Regions from separate parts of the Homo sapiens genome. Here region 1 is linked to region 2. The links come from fine-mapping of genetic effects on gene expression. Tissue or cell type: cerebellar hemisphere. Region 2 holds a variant in brackets; the other region holds the start of a gene. All regions are shown on one strand. Distances are from middle to middle.

The links. PIP is the estimated chance that this variant, and not a neighbour inherited with it, causes the effect.
Region 1: TMEM18 starts here. The variant in region 2 is fine-mapped to the expression of TMEM18 in cerebellar hemisphere (GTEx, PIP 0.98).

The regions. Positions count from the first base shown.
Region 1 is chr2:673,753-681,895 of GRCh38, reverse strand. It overlaps TMEM18 (transmembrane protein 18), which reads left to right and starts at 4,490. Exons shown (of 5, transcript NM_152834.4): 1 at 4,490-4,607; 2 at 6,266-6,386. The coding sequence starts at 4,551. It overlaps TMEM18-DT (TMEM18 divergent transcript), which reads right to left and starts at 4,524. Exons shown (of 3, transcript NR_183417.1): 1 at 4,423-4,524; 2 at 1,745-1,852; 3 at 1-640. RefSeq lists enhancers at 4,348-4,417, 4,448-4,547, 4,450-5,215, 7,002-7,501, 7,502-8,003 and a silencer at 4,708-4,957.
Region 2 is chr2:1,415,679-1,423,678 of GRCh38, reverse strand. It overlaps TPO (thyroid peroxidase), which reads right to left. Exons shown (of 17, transcript NM_001206744.2): 3 at 550-634. Among named protein-coding and RNA genes, the nearest start is that of TPO, 6.2 kb to the right of the region's middle. RefSeq lists an enhancer at 5,180-6,379. The variant C/G (reference allele first, on the strand shown) is at 3,634.

The DNA of each region.
Region 1 (8,143 bases), 740 kb after region 2:
TGCGGAGTTGCCAAAACACCAACAGGAAACCCTTGGTCTTTCCCTCCTGAAGAAATTGGGAATATGCCTGCTAAAAATTGAGAAGGAAGGAGAGAATCAGAGATGGAGAACCCCAAATTCTGTGTATAACTTCCATCCAGAACTCCAGTTGACATCCGAACGCTGAATGTGTGAGGCAAACTCCACGAAACACAAGAAGGATAAAAGAACCAAATTAAGAATTCAGCTGCTGTTCAACAGGCAGTTTGCAGTCTGTCAAACCAACTTAATGGTCTCATCACACACACGCGTGCGCGTGCATGCACACACACACACACACACACACACACACACAGCTGGAAAAAATAACAGAGCCCAGACTCTCCACGACATGATATTTGCAATGCCCAACAAGTCATGCTAAATTATCCACAATTGCAGAACCGGGGAAGTGTGGCCACCGCTCTAGCAAACAGACACACTCAGAATCAGAACAATCCCCTTGCTGTGCTCAGAGGTGGAGCTTCCTGCTGTATCCCTGCTCAGTGACGGGAATCAGGGCCTGCACCCACCACCAGGATGAATCCTGCCTTGCCGCGATTTTACAGCTGCAGCGAAGGACAGTTCTGCAATCATGGGAAGTCTAATGTTCAGTCCTCATCTAATAAAGAGAAGAAAAAGAATGAGAGAGAAAAAATGAAGAAATAATGCTAAAAATTAACAATATAAATTCACAGAATCAAGAAATTTATCAAACACAAGCAACATGAATACAAAGAAAACTAATTCTAGGCACATCGTGGTCAAACTGCTGAAACCAAGATAAACAGAATATTCTGAAAACAGAAAAATGACATGTTATCTATGGGAAAATGAGGATTAGAAACATCACTGCTTTTCTACAAGAAACTATGGCAGACAGAAGGCTGTGGAATATCTCTCATGTGGTCAAAGAAAAGAAAGAAAAGCAGTATTCAACAATTCACAGAAAAAATATCCTTTAAAATGAAGACAAAACAAGAGCATTTTTCAGATGAAGTCGATTCATCCCCGACAGATCTGAACTGCATGGGATGCTTATGGCAATTCTTTAGTCTGAGAGGAAATGATACCACCTGAAAATGCTCAGAAAGGAATGAGAGCTTTGGAAATGGTAAATTAAGCATTGCTGTCAAATGCTTTATTGTAAACCGCATTGTACAAACTGACAGAGGCATCAGATTTCACATCAGGGTCAAACTGGTGCAGCCCAGAGACACAAAGGGAGGAACCAGGAACCCGCACAGAAGCTGCCCGGGGTCGTAGACCCAGCCCGTGAGGTTGGTGTCCTGCAGGATGTTGCTGAGCTTGGCAAGTTCAATGGGGATAAATGGAGAACACAGTGGTGGAGATAAGGGCACTTCTGTGGCCTGATTCGCATCCAAGACATCGAAACTGAGGGCGCCCAGAGTCCAGCTCTCAGGGATCTCAGTTATTGGCCATGATGTCTTCAGGAATGAAACCTCTGGGCTCACACCATTCTTTGGGTGTGCTACAGTGTTTAAACCTTTCCTGAGATGCACCCTGCCGTCCCCTAGGGTCCGACCCTCCTGGGCTTTCTGGCACTGTCTGAGCTGTCACCAGGCCAGGGGTCTGCACCTGGCACCCCGGCTGGCATGGGGCTATGGAGGCCAGGTCCAGGGGGTCCTGCCCATGTCAGCCTGGCTGTGGCTCTTCCTAGACAGACGCCCCTCCCAAGGCTGCCTCTGGGTCACAGGGCACAGACCTGGTCTTGGTACCTCTCCTTTCCTCCATAACTCCTCATTGCTCCCACAGCAACAGGTAACTCTCCCCTGTGGTCTCTCCATCTAAACAATCAGCTGCCTGCTGGGACCTGAGCAATGCAAAGAACAAGAAAGCTATCAAGTACTGGCTTTAATTTGTAGAAAACATTACAGCTCACAAACTTATTTTACCCATTAATAAAGCTCTTGAAAACCAATTGTATGTGGATTAAATAGCTATTTTAGAAATAAACAAAATTGGGCCAGGCGTGGTGGCTCACGCCTGTAATCCCAGCACTTTGGGAGGCCAAGGCAGGCGGATCATCTGATGTCAGGAGTTCGAGACCAGCCTGGCCAACATGGTGAAACCCCGTGTCTACTAAAAATACAAAATTAGCCTGGCATGGTGGCACACGCCGGTGATCCCAGCTACTCGGAAGGCTGAGGCAGGGAGAATCGCTTGAACCCAGGAGGCAGAGGTTGCAGTGAGCCGAGACCCTGCCACTGCACTCCAGCCTAGGCAACAAGAGCAAAACGCAAAAAAAAAAAAAAAAAAAAAAAAAAAAGGAAAGGGAAGAGAAGAGAAGGGTGGCGAGGGAAGGGGAAGGGAGGGGAGGGGCTTCATCCAGTCTTTTCTGGAAGCACAAAATTCCAGGTAAATGGAATAGAGTCCATGTCAGCATTCACATACCAACAGAGAGAGCAGGCCATGTTCTACTGGCCACATTAAAATAGCAAAGAGAAAGAGATTAATTTTATTGATATATTTTATTTGGTCCAGTATGTCCAAAATATAATTTCAACATGTAAGCAAAATAATACAATTGTTGATAATGTATTTTACATTTTGGTACAAAGTCTTTGAAAGATGGTGTATGTTTGAAATTAAAGCACATCTCAGACTGGCGACATTGCACAAGCTTCACGTCTAAATGTCCGGCAGCCTAGCGTTGTTCAGAACGGCAGGGCGGGAGGAATGTGGAAGATGAATGTCCTGGGACTGAAAGTGAAGCTGCTGAGGGCCAGAGTTTTAACAATTTTGGAAACTTGGGTGCCAGGGCGCACAATATATGAAAGATCTGGGAGGGCGGCTGAGGGGAAGATGAAGAGAAAAAATCCCAGTGACCGTAGATAGGCTGTGGTTAATATTAATAGCAAAAAGAGTTTGACCCCAAATTACAGAAGTTACAAGAAAACAGACACCACAAAAGAAAGGCAGGCACCAGACAGGACTGACGATGAAACTAACCCATGGAAATTAATAAGAGTGATGTTTCACATAGTAACGAAATATCATCAGGGAGATACACAGTAACAGGCTGAACTGAAGAGGACAGATCTATTCCCTGTAACTGAAAGGTCCTGTTGAAAATAGCTGAACAAACACAGGGGAGTGAGAATGGACACAGATGAAAACCATCACACCAGCTGGGTGCGGTGGCTCATGCCTGTAATCCCAGCACTTTGGGAGGCCCAGGCGGGTAAATCACTTGAGGTCAGGAGTTCAAAACTAGCCTGGCCAACATGGTGAAACCCCGTCTCTACTAAAAATACAAAAAAAATTAGCCAGGTGAGGTGGCGAACACCTGTAATCCCAGCTACTCGGGAGGCTGAGGCAGGAGAATAGCTTGAACCCAGGAGGCGGAGGTTGCAGTGAGCCGAGGTCCCACCATTGTGCTCCAGCCTGGGCGACAGAGCGAGACATCGTCTTAAAAAAAAAAAAAAAAAACCAGGAAAGCCAAGCCCGAGATTTCCCAAACTCAGCAACAACAGTCGTGATGTTTTGAGAGGAAGGTTGAGAAACACAAAAGAGAGGAAGATGCACTATCTACCTAACGGGATGTTCCTGGAGTTGAATACAGGAAGAATAGAGAAAAATATCAATGAAAGAAATGTTTTCCCATAAGAAGAAACCATGACCTTCTACACTGAAATGAGAGAATGCATGTTAAGTAGCATAAGCAGAAATGACCACACTGTGGAAAGATTTTAAGAAAGATCTGGGAGGGGTTAAAGCTATTAAAAAAAAAAAAAAGTCCACCACTAGAACTATTTTTAGAAACATTAAACTAGTTCAAGAGCTAACATATGCAATTAAAGTATATACACTTAATAATTCATGATGTTAAAATAACAGAATGTTTAATTTGAAAATGTCAAAGTTGGGGTATAGATGTTAAAATAAAGGGAAAAAATTCGCTGGAAGAAAATTAACTTTATATTTTTGTATCTGTCGTTGAACAACGAAGTGAAGCGTAAGAACATCTGGTAAATCTCCAAAGTGAAGACAGATAACCCTAAGCTGACCCAGACTAAGAGTGCACTGCCCTTAGGGTCGCGAGAGCAGACACCTTCCCAAGTCCTGCAGGGTCCGAGGAGTGGGCAATGTCCCCGGCTCCTGCAGGGTCTCGGGGCGGACACCGTCCTCATTGATGCTCTGACCCTTCTAGGGAGTCCCAGGTGGGACAGGGCTGGCGTGGCGGTACAGCGCCCTGAGCCTTTGAAACAAACCTCCTAAATTCCACCCGCCTCCGCCTGCTCCTCTGTTAACGAACTAAAGACGCCCTCGGCCTCCTGGCGGAGCGAGCACAAGTCCCACAGCAGCGTAGTAAGTTTTCCGTATTACAGCGACCACCAGGAAATATCGCGATATCTGGACCTAGCAATGCCATGAAATTACCGCGAGAGGAAGCAAGCGCAAGTTTCGTGAGAAGGGCAGATCTCACGAGAGAGGATTTGGCGCCCTCCTCTGTGGATTCTGGCCAGGCCGGGTTCGGCGGTTGCTGTGAGAGCGGGCTTCCCAACACCATGCCGTCCGCCTTCTCTGTCAGCTCTTTCCCCGTCAGCATCCCAGCCGTGCTCACGGTAACTCGCGGCCCGCGTAACCACCAGTTCGGGGGAGGACGGCGGAGAGGCGTAGGGTAGGCCCCACAGAGCACCCGGCCTGTGGCCAAGAAGGCCCCGGCCGTGGGCGGGGCCTTGTGGCGGAGCGCGCGCGCTGGGCAGGGTCCTGAGACCTGTGGGAGTGGCTCGGGGCCGGCGTCGGGGGCGCGCGCTGTGGGCGGGGTCCTGGGCCCTGTGGGAGGGGGCCGGGGCCGGGCGTCGGGGCGCGAGCGCTAGGCGGGGTCCTGGGCCGTTGGGCGGGGAGGGGCGGGGCCGGGCGGGGCCTTGTGGAGGAGCGTGCGCAGTGAGCTGGCTCCGGCGCTCTGTGGCCCGGGCTTGGGCTGGGCTGGCGTCCTGCACCGTGCGGGCGTGGCTGAGTTGTGTGGGCGGAGCGCGAGGGGTAGGGCTTTGTTCGTGTGGGAGGTGCACGCCGGCCAGTCCAGCGTCTTGCGGGCGGGGCTTGGGCCATGTGGGCGGATTCTGGCAGTGCGGCGGGGCGTGCGTGGTGGAGCCTGATCGTGTGGGGTGGCACGGAGGAACGCTGCCCAGTGTGGGCGGGGCGTGCGCCGTGCCGGGTTCGTCTGACAGATCCCAGGGGAGCCCACGCCCCACGTGGCCGCCAAGGGGTGACATGGGCACTCGATGGGGTCTGGGCAGAAAGCCGTGCTCCCCTCACCTCCGTGCCTCTGGTCTTCTGGTGGGTGCATTGATGGGAGTAGATGCGCTTGTGTCCTTATGTCATGGCGCGGCTCTGGAGAAGCCGCTGCGGTCCCCAGCAGAGAGTAGTGACACAGGAGTTCTGGAGGGCTGTGCCGGGCTGCAGCTTGGAGGGCAGGGCGGGGCTGCAGCTTGGAGGGCAGGGCGGGGCTGCAGCTTGGAGGGCAGGGCTTGTCTTCTGCAGGAGGGCGCTCAAGGAGGGGATGGGGAGGGTTGAGGACTGCTGGGATTGGCATCTGAGCATCAGGTGGGGACTGAGCAGCAGTGGATCTGAGCCTGGCTACTTCAGGTCCCTGAGCCAGACACTGTCCCCAGGTACAGCAGGGTCCCGGGGAGTCCAGGAGGCGGCGGAGTGCGGCACTGTCTGGAGAGTTCAGTGTATTGCAGAGAGGTTGGAGAAAATCAAGTCTTGCACGTGGCGATGGCTCAAGATTCCCTGAGGTCTTCAGTGCTGACTAAGGAGTCTGAAATGATGATTCATGTTTTACCTTTGGGGCTGAGCCAAGTGCATCTCTTTGAGCAATCGTCTTAATTTCCTTGTCGTCACCAATTATCATAACCAATTATCATCGTAAAGGATGGTAATTCCTTTAATTATACCCACCTTAAAAACATGATTCTGTTCCACAAACGAAAGGAGCACATCAGAGATGCCTTCAGTTCTGTGTGCTTGAACTTTGAATTCCATGAATTATAGTTGCACTGAGGGGAGAATCCTGTTTCCATCCTCCTGGTTCCTTCTCCCTTTCCTGTCCCCATGTTTCTCTGAGGCCTGGCAATGCTCTCTGGATACTTGGTGAGTAGCCCAGGAGGACTCAGGAGTGAGAGGCCCCTGCCTCCTGCGCTGGGAGAAGGCTGTGGGTGGGCCGTGAACCCGGCCTTGAGTGGCAGGACAGTGAGTGTCTGCTGGTGTGTTCCTACAGCAGACGGACTGGACTGAGCCCTGGCTCATGGGGCTGGCCACCTTCCACGCGCTCTGCGTGCTCCTCACCTGCTTGTCCTCCCGAAGCTACAGACTACAGATCGGGCACTTTCTGTGTCTAGGTGAGTAAAACAACACAAACTCCACAACTCAGATCACTGTGTGAAATGAAACTGTGTATGTTCTGTCTGTGTCTTCGAAATATATACATATTTTTACAAGACCTCCCAACCCTCTGTCATGTGCCTGCTCCCAGGGCACTCCCGTTTTTCACTCTTGGAAGCTATAAAGAAAACTACTTTTTGGATGTTAGAGTTGAGAGGAATCTGTTGAGTTCCTGTTGCCTACCAGGGAGGTGCTGAGCACCAGCTGCACACAGGAGAGTTGGGTTTCCGGAAGTGCTGTCTTTTACACAAGATGCGTCCTTGGTGGCAGCTGTGCTCATGCACTGCTTTGAATGGGAGGAAGATTGCAAACTGGGAAAGAAAAGTTCTGTGCATAAAATAAGGCATTGCCCAACTTGGTTTCAAGGATAAGGGCTACAGAACTTAGAGAAGTTAGGGAGTTGCACAGGATGACTGAGAAAGATTATTCAGAAAAGCTGAAATCATGGCACAGGGTGTGAAGAGTGAGTAAAATGTTAATAAGAAAAGAGAGGGAGCAGGTGACGGCCCTGGGAGGGCAGCAGCCCGACATGCAGAGACTGAGATAGATGGAAGGTGTGGATCAGAGGCAGAGAAACTGCAAGCCCTCCAGGACCTAAGCACTTCTGATGCTGAGCGTTACGAACACGTGTGGGTAGAAGAGGCGAGGAGGGCCTGGAGGCCTGGCTCAGGCTACTCTTGACTCTCAACATTGGGGAGACACTGAAGATTTTGCTTGGTAGTTAAAAATAACTAATTTCAGATAAGTTTAGTTAGCTGGCTGTGTGCAAAGCGGGAAATCTGAAGAAGAGATGATCTTAGAAAGACTGGAGAAGTGATGAGGGTTTGCATCACAGTGGGGGCCTATGCAAGTGAGGCGCTCAGAGCAAGCTCTGTATTGAGGGTGCCCTGAGGAGTGCTGGAGTGGACCAGGCAGACAGGGCTCCTTTGCCTCCCACAGCTTCCTGGGGGACACCAGCACCAGTGATTCATCACAGACCTGTGTTATCAACAGTGACAAGTGTTGCAATGGAAAAGCCAAAAACACAGTGAAACAGGAGGAGCGGCCTGATTTAAATCACACAGTCCCCTGGGAACCCAGGGGCAAAAGGTGCATAGGCAGGAGCCAGGCAGTGAGATGCTGGCAGAGGGCAGGAGCAAGTGCCCCACGCAGAGGCCCTGAGGCAGGCATCTCAAAGAAAGGTGATGGCTTCACCAGCTGAGCTCCTGGATCTGAATAGCTTTGTCAGCTGGAGAACTGCACAAAGGGTTTGATGTTTTCTAGGATAAGGGGAAGGATGACTGCTTTCACACCGGGGTAATACTAGACACTGTGCTGCCTGCCATTACATTTCCTGTGATTCATTTCTCAAACCAGCCAAGAGTTGGATTTTATTTGCCCATTTTTATAAATGAAACATGCAGAGGTTCTCTAACTCCCTCAGCTATACAGCTTATAACCAGCACCATCAAGATTCAAGATTCAGACTCTGCTCCAGGGTGCATTTCAGGAATAGCTGAGGAGGAGCACCTGGTGACACCCTCCCTGCCCGCCTTCCTCCCGTGCCTACCACCCTCCCCACCTTCCCCCTGTAACGTCAGCCCTCCACACCTTCCTCCCCGCACCCATGCCCACCACCTCCTGTGTTAGCCTACCCTTCTCACCTGCCTGGCTGTCCTGCTTCTCCTGGCCCTCCTCCTTCCCCTCCTTCCTCTCCTTCCCCCCCATCCTCCCC
Region 2 (8,000 bases):
TTGGGAGGGCAAACTGCTTTACAGGTTTTTTGTTTTTTGTTTTTCTTTTCTTTTTCTAGACAGGTAATATGAGACCACAATATTCTTAATAGTGGTGTCTGTTATATAATTACAAATGCTAATTATTTCAAAAATGGGGGAGAGCCCCATTTAATTCTTTATTCTATGCCACAGGTAATGTTACAGTTATATCACAACACCAAAGATCTGGGATCTAGGTCTCTCTTTTCCTCCTTAATCTGTCCTAATCCTGGAGAAGAGAGGCTGGTTTTGCTATCAGGACGTCAGCCTCTACTGTCTTTTAACCAGGGTATACGTAATTGCTAATTGCATCAGGGTGCTCCTCCTTTGTGTCTTGCTTAAGAAAGGATTGGAGATTAAATACCAGTTCTGTCTGCTGCTTGCACATGACACTGGGGAAGTAAATTAACAATGGCAAGCTTCAGGTTTTCATCTGCAATTGCGAAAATCAGGCCACACGTGTGTGGATGTCAGGGAGGATGCGCCTGTCGGTGGCATTTGGGGCGGCGGCCCCTCCGCAAGGCTCACCTCTGCATCGTGGCGTACATGGCGGTGTCCACCAGGCGCTTGCTTTCCTCCAAGACGCTAGAGACACGAGACTCCTCAGGCTTTCCTACGGAACAGAATGTCACACAGTCAAAGCGCAATGACAGTTCAGCGATTCACTGACAGTGTTGCTTTGTTCCTCAAGCCCATCTTGCTGCGGTGATGCCCACGTGGCTTCCGGGACAGGCAGGCAGCCAGGTCCCGGGGTCGCTTCCCTCCACAGGCCTTCACTTCCCCGCTACAGAGGGGCGTCCACCCCCACTGCACGGAGCTGCCTGGAGGATGGGATCAGAGCTACTCACCTTAATTTCGCACTTGCCCAAACCACTTCAAATGATTCCGAATAACTTTTGTTCTGAACATTCATCACTGGTTACCTGAGCCAGTGGTAAAGTTGATAAGATTTGCCTATCTTGTGTATTTAATAAAAGATAAAATAATTCCACTATACCAGTAGTTTCCAATGAAAGCACTCCTGTGTTATTTGTTTTAGCACCTGGAATGTGTAAGAGGTTAAGATCCCATTTCTGGGTATCACCGTGAAGTTCCGGACGCGGTAACAGGAAGACGGCAAGTGTTTCCGGCCATGTTCACACGTCAGTCCTGTTACTAAATTCACCTGCGTAGCATCAATACTTCACCAAAGGAATGAATTGGCTCCTAAAAGCAAATAGAAGTCCCTGAGGGGCACACCAGGCTCTCGCTCTCCCCATGGCCCAGCGCGGCGCCTGCACGAGGTCGGTCCAGCGCGGCGCCTGCACGAGGTCGGTCCAGGAGAGGCGCCTGCACGAGGTCTGTCCAGGAGAGGCGCCTGCGGGGTCTTCAAGGCTTCAGTCCCACGCGCCTTCCATGCTCGTCCCCACCCAAGGAGCACACAAATTCCCCAGCATCATTTCTTCCTGCTCACTCTGCCCTGCTCCGTCTGTTCCATTGGCCACCCAGTTTCTTACAGTGTGATACAGCAAAGTTAAGAAAACCTCCGTGCTGGATCTCTCTTGGGTTCTGGGATGAGTAACCAGTGGTTAAGCACTTGGGGCAGAGGGTGACCCCTCAGGGTTGGGCAGAGAGCAATGAACAGAGCCCCCCGGTGTGGGGCTCCCTGGGGCAAGGGCAGGAGGGAGGGAGGAACACCTAGCACGGGCTCACAGCTCGCCGGGGACCCCCAGCACAGCCGTCAGAGCTGCAGGCTCTGGGTGTGGAATCTGAAGAGGGGACCTGGCTTTACGCCAATGTGTGCGTGCTGGGGACAGTGCAATGTGGGACGATGCCACCAAGAGTGAGTAGGAGCCGAGAGGGGAGGGGCGGCCTGGGCGTCGCAGGATCGGTGGCAGGTGTGGACCTCAAGGACCAGCATTCCGGGCTTTATGGAGATTTCTTTCAGCTCTCAAGAATCAGGGAACCTCCTGTTCCCACAAAAGCTTGAGATATAAGACACCTGGAATTTTCCTTTATTTTCCTCTTATTTCCTTCTAAACCCACTGCAACTGCCCAGGCAACTCAACTCACATTTTGTATTCTGTGGTCAGTCACGACCGCTTATTTGCCAAATGCAGTAACCAGCCCCGCCCCCCACCTCCCCAGGACTCTGGTGCTTTTGGGATGTTGCCGGCATTCTTAAGTGGCAGAGGGGTGACGGCCATGGGCTCTGGAGTGAGACAAATCAATCTCCGAGTGACGCGGCAGCTCACTTCACCTGGCGCGGTTTTCTCTCCTAGCTGCAGAGTTACATCTTAGGATGGTTTTAGAGAGAAGTTTGCACAGCTCTTGGCCGAGGGCCTCGCAAGTGTGCTCTGAAGAGAGAAGTTTGCACGGCTCTGGGCTGAGGGCCTGGCAAGTGCACAGAGTTACGTCTTAGGATGGTTTTACAGAGAGGTTTGCACGGCTTTTGGTCCAGGGCCTGGCAAGCGTTCAGTGCTCCCGGCCGTCGTGCCTTTTGCTTTCAGTCTCTGGCCACTCTCTCTCTCAGCCTCGGTCACTGTGGCTCTCTTCTCTCCATGGTCTCCCTCCTGTGAGTGTCACCTCGGGTGCATTTCTGGCTCCTCTGATCTTTGCCCTCTCCTCTCACCCTCCTTTGGTCCTCTCCCAAACGCCCGTTTTCCACTTGAACTTCTCTCCTGAGTCACGCCATCCTCCTCTGTTCCCTGTTGAGGGGTGTTAACAGCCTGAAATAACCACCCTACCAGCTCAAGTCCCCAAGCAAGAAGCCCAGCCGTGGCTTTCCTTGCCTTTCACTCACCATGTGGTGTGAATTTCCCCATAATGTCTCTGGGAGAACGTTCTGCTCCTGCCTGGCCGTTGTCAGTCTCACTTTCTACTGCCTTAGTAGAAGGAGCTCTTGACTGGCTCCTGCACTGATCTCCCCACCATCCTTCTGTCCCTCCTGCTGTCACCCAAGTGACCTTTCTAAACCAAGGCCTGCTTGTGCCTGTGCCTTTGATGAAAGCATCTGAAGGCTCCTGATGCCCACTGAATTGCGTGCAGGTCTTCCTCAGAATCCAGGACGTCCACCACCTGCCCAAGACCAATCTCCATGTTGCAGAGCTGTGGAGGTAACGCACAATTTATCCTTCATCTCATGAAATTGTCAATCTCAAGCTCCCAGCTCTTCCTTTATGAAATTTTGATCCTGCTGATCTTTAGGTACCAGAAAAAAAATTAGCTCTGTCACTCACACCACCTGTGTATATGCATCCTATCACTGAGAGTCTCTTCAGGGCTCTGCAAAGTTCTGCGCTATTCACGACCAAGACCAAAGGCTGGTTTTCAGCAGGCACTTGACAATTATTTAAGAACCAACTGATTAAATATAAAGAAACATGCTTATCCTTCTCTACTATGCTTGGAAACGGCAGTTACTAGAGAGATCATTCCTTGTTATTGACCAATATTAATATATTGTTATTCAAGTTTAACTGATCATATGTTGCTTAGTCTCTAGTTTCTTTTCTTATTGTAAAATATTTTACAGAATTAAAACATTCTTATAGGCTTGCAGATTATTAGTCTTTTAAGTTTCATAAAATAAATCCATTTCTGTATTGAAAACTTCCTCCCAGAGACACATAA[C/G]TCTCATCAGATAGTCTCAAGTCTCTACTGGAACCGGTGGTGTTTTCATTGTTTAGGTTAACTACTTCTTGGCTGAATAGAGATGACTGACATCCATCTGTAGGGGAAGAAGAAACCTTTTCTCTCCCTGCATCTTAGATTAATTTTCTGGGGCATTGAAATTAGACTGACAAAAGGCAGAGTCACAGGAGGAAAACTCACAGGGGTTATTAGCCTGGACTCCTGCTTCCACGAGGGAGCCCCCTGAGCGCCCCAAGATGGAAACTCGAATGGATCGTTAGAACTCTGCTGCACAGCCCCTCAGCAAAAGAACAATCATTTTCCAAGAAGCTGCAAGACCAAAGCAAAGGACTTTGAGTTCCCAGGAAACACGTTTTGAGGAGGCCTCTCTGGGGCAACTACAGGAAGGGAGGCCGGGGCTGCAGAGGTTTGCCACACAAATGCCTCTGGGGCTGGTTCCAGGCTGTTGAGGGCCTGGGGTCCCTGGTGATGAATTTCTGTCCTTTCTGTTGGAGAGGGAAATGGTCACTTTTGCGGATTTATGTTCTACTTTTAGGCAATAGAGGCAGGGCAGATGGCTTTTCCTTTATCTGCTGCTTCTCAGTTTCCATCAGCTCACATTAGCTCTCCTGCCACCAGGGAGCTGGGGTGGCCAGCTCTGAGCCCCTTGCTATCGTTAGCTCTGCAGCGCCCTTCCTTCCTCAGTTCCCAGCAATCCCAGGGAAGAGGCGTCTGATGCAAGGACCATAGACTTAGGGAGTTTGAACCCGAAGTTTTTTTTCAGAACTGAACACTGAGTTCTAGGGAGTCACGGGACTTAATTACTTGCTCTGGAGAAGCCGCCCGCTGCTCTCTGCCTGCGCCTTCTCAAGATTGCTCCTGCTCTGAGGGGCGCATGGCACGGTTCCCCCAAATTCTCCTTTATGCATATTCATATTGTTCATAAAAGAGGTGGAATTCAGGGACACATTAGGCAAGAACATACCACATTTCAGAAAGAAGAAGGAAGTTGCCTTGTTCCAAAGGCTGTTTATGTTAAATATATATATGAAAGCCAAAATCTTTCTTCTCCAAAACCATAAGCCCCCAGGGCCAGAGCTTTGCTCCTAATTCTAAGCGCTTGATTCCTGTTTAGAGTTGTGTGTTGATTCTTACTTTAATCCTTGCTGTTTGTTGAAATTTAATGAACTGGAATAAGGTTTGCCAACTTTCCTTTTAAAACAAATTCACTCATTAGGCTAGCTTCCCAAATTTTCCCAGGCTGCAGGCAGCGCCTCTGCTTCTTCTTGTTCATTTGCATCTTATTTTCTTTTAACAGCTATAACTTGTGGAACATTTGCCATAAAGATAATTGCACATAAATCTTGATGTTGCACAAATGCTGGAATGCCTCTCAGCCTGTGTGGTGATGAATACACAGGGTTCTGGTGAAGAACATTCTGTTCAGGGCGTTAGAGGAGGGATTGATAGCAAACTTCTCTTAGACAACAATGGTCAAGCATAGATTTTTTTTCCATTTTCAAAGACTCTTATTACAGAATTTTCAGGTGCTGAAGTTTATTTCTCTTTGTGCTTTGACCCTAGGGGATCCTGCTCTGGAACAAGAGTCTCTCCTGCACCCACCCAGTCTGAGCACCAGCCAAGATCTTTCCCTTCTTATTCTCACCTTCCTACAGTTTGCAGGCAAGTTGATACAACCTAAACTCTATCCAGGACTGATGCTTTTCTTTTTTTCTCTCTCTCTCTTTTTTTTTTTTTTTTGAGATGGATTCTCACTCTGTCACCTAGACTGGAGTGCAGTGGTGTGATCTCGACTCTGCAACCTCCACCTCCTGGGTTCAACTGATTCTCGTGCCTCAGCCTCCCGAGTAGCTGGGATGACAGGTGGGCACCACCACGCCCAGCTAATTTTTTTTTGTATTTTTAGTAGAGATGGGGTTTTGCCATGTTGGTCAGGCTGGTCTTGAACTCCTAGCCTCAAGTGATCTTCCCGCCTCGGCCTCCCAAAGTGTTGGGATTGCAGATGTGAGTCATGGCACTGGCCTGATACTGTGTTGGGATTGCAGATGTGAGTCACGGCACTGGCCTAATACTGTGTTGGGATTGCAGATGTGAGTCACGGCACTGGCCTGATGATACTGTGTTGGGATTGCAGATGTGAGTCACGGCACTGGCCTGATACTGTGTTGGGATTGCAGATGTGAGTCACGGCACTGGCCTGATACTGTGTTGGGATTGCAGATGTGAGTCACGGCACTGGCCTGATGATACTGTGTTGGGATTGCAGATGTGAGTCACGGCACTGGCCTGATACTGTGTTGGGATTGCAGATGTGAGTCACGGCACTGGCCTGATGATACTGTGTTGGGATTGCAGATGTGAGTCACGGCACTGGCCTGATACTGTGTTGGGATTGCAGATGTGAGTCACGGCACTGGCCTGATACTGTGTTGGGATTGCAGATGTGAGTCACGGCACTGGCCTGATGATACTGTGTTGGGATTGCAGATGTGAGTCACGGCACTGGCCTGATACTGTGTTGGGATTGCAGATGTGAGTCACGGCACTGGCCTGATACTGTGTTGGGACTGCAGATGTGAGTCACGGCACTGGCCTGATGATACTGTGTTGGGATTGCAGATGTGAGTCACGGCACTGGCCTGATACTGTGTTGGGATTGCAGATGTGAGTCACGGCACTGGCCTGATACTGTGTTGGGATTGCAGATGTGAGTCACGGCACTGGCCTGATGATACTGTGTTGGGATTGCAGATGTGAGTCACGGCACTGGCCTGATACTGTGTTGGGATTGCAGATGTGAGTCACGGCACTGGCCTGATGATACTGTGTTGGGATTGCAGATGTGAGTCACGGCACTGGCCTGATACTTTTCGCTGAGTACTTATCATCGAGCTTCAAGTATGAGGATGTGTGTTGGTTCTCTGTAAAGACCTGGGACGTGAGACTGTGAGACTGAGCGGCCACAGCCTTGCTGCTTCTGAGACTTCCAGACCTCTACGTTTTGATCTATAAAATGGGTGCCTGACACATAAGGGTGAGCCACCCACCAAGCAGGACCCCCCGGAGCACCATGTGCTTACGGTGACCGTGTGTGGTCCAGGGGGAGCCTGGATCCTCTTGGCCCTGCCGCTGCCTGCTCTTTGGCTTGTCCTGCACAGAGGCTGGGGAGCAGGCCAAGGTTTTTGCTTCACATGTCTGTGAGCACAGGTGACATAAACCCACACACAGTCATTGGGCATCATTTTCCAAACAGATTTAAAGCTGCAAAACAACTATTAAAGGCTGTAAAATAGAAATACTGTGAGACACATAATATTTTTTCAGTAACTCATTCACATTTCAAGCAAACAATAAGTCAGCTTTGAAATATTGGAGCAGGCAGAAGCATGTGCCCAGCACGCGGGGCAGTTGTCAGCTGCTGTCCTGTGCACTCGTGATGTGTCAACCAAAAGTTTAAGCAAAACGAAAAGGTCAAATCTCCCAGATATGGAAAAATAATTTTTAAAAACTGTTTTAGCAAAAGCTGTGGCTACTGCATTCCTGATGGCTTTTTAAATGTGATTTTTAAAATTAAAAAACATGTTACAAAGTTTTAAATATTTTGTTGAATAGCTCTCATGTATCACAACTTGCTCAGAACTAGCTCTTGACTTCTAACATGTTTTACTCTGGTTTTATACAACCAGGTCCTACTAAATATGAAATAAAATAACAAAGTAATTAATTTACAAACCATTGGCTGAACATCTAGCATGTTCCAGGTGATAGAGTGACTGATTTATTCTGGGAAGATGCAAAATCACTTTTTCCTGAGGTTCTTTATATTGTGACTCCATTTTTATTTTTTGTTTTTTGGTGATTGCCGAGGTACTGCATTCACCGCTTTAAATGAAGTATCTCATTCTTGCTCACAAATAATGACTGCGATGAGTAATTTTCCAGTGTTCTCCATTTGCAGGGGAGGGACAGGAATTAGGGGTGAGTAGCCCATCCTTGGGGCATGGATGGAAGCTGGCAGGGAGAGGCCCCACGGCTTCCCTGATCTCAGAGCGGGCAGTGACCAGGAAGTCCTGGGGGCTGTGGAGGGAGAGTTTTTTTAAGGAGCCTACGAGTCTGTTATGGACTTCACTGCCACTCCTAATATGGTTGTGAAGTCCTGAGATGCAGAAAAATTGGGGTAAAATGTGGCCCCCAGCAGGAGGCTGGGCTGGGTGTGGCTGGGAACAGCGAGGACTCCAGATTCTGTGACCCTGAACGACAGACAAGGCCTCCAGTCCTGGGAAAGGCTGGTGAGGGCAGAGGTGCCAGTGCTGTGCCATGGCCCCAAGACTGTGTCCAGAGACCCA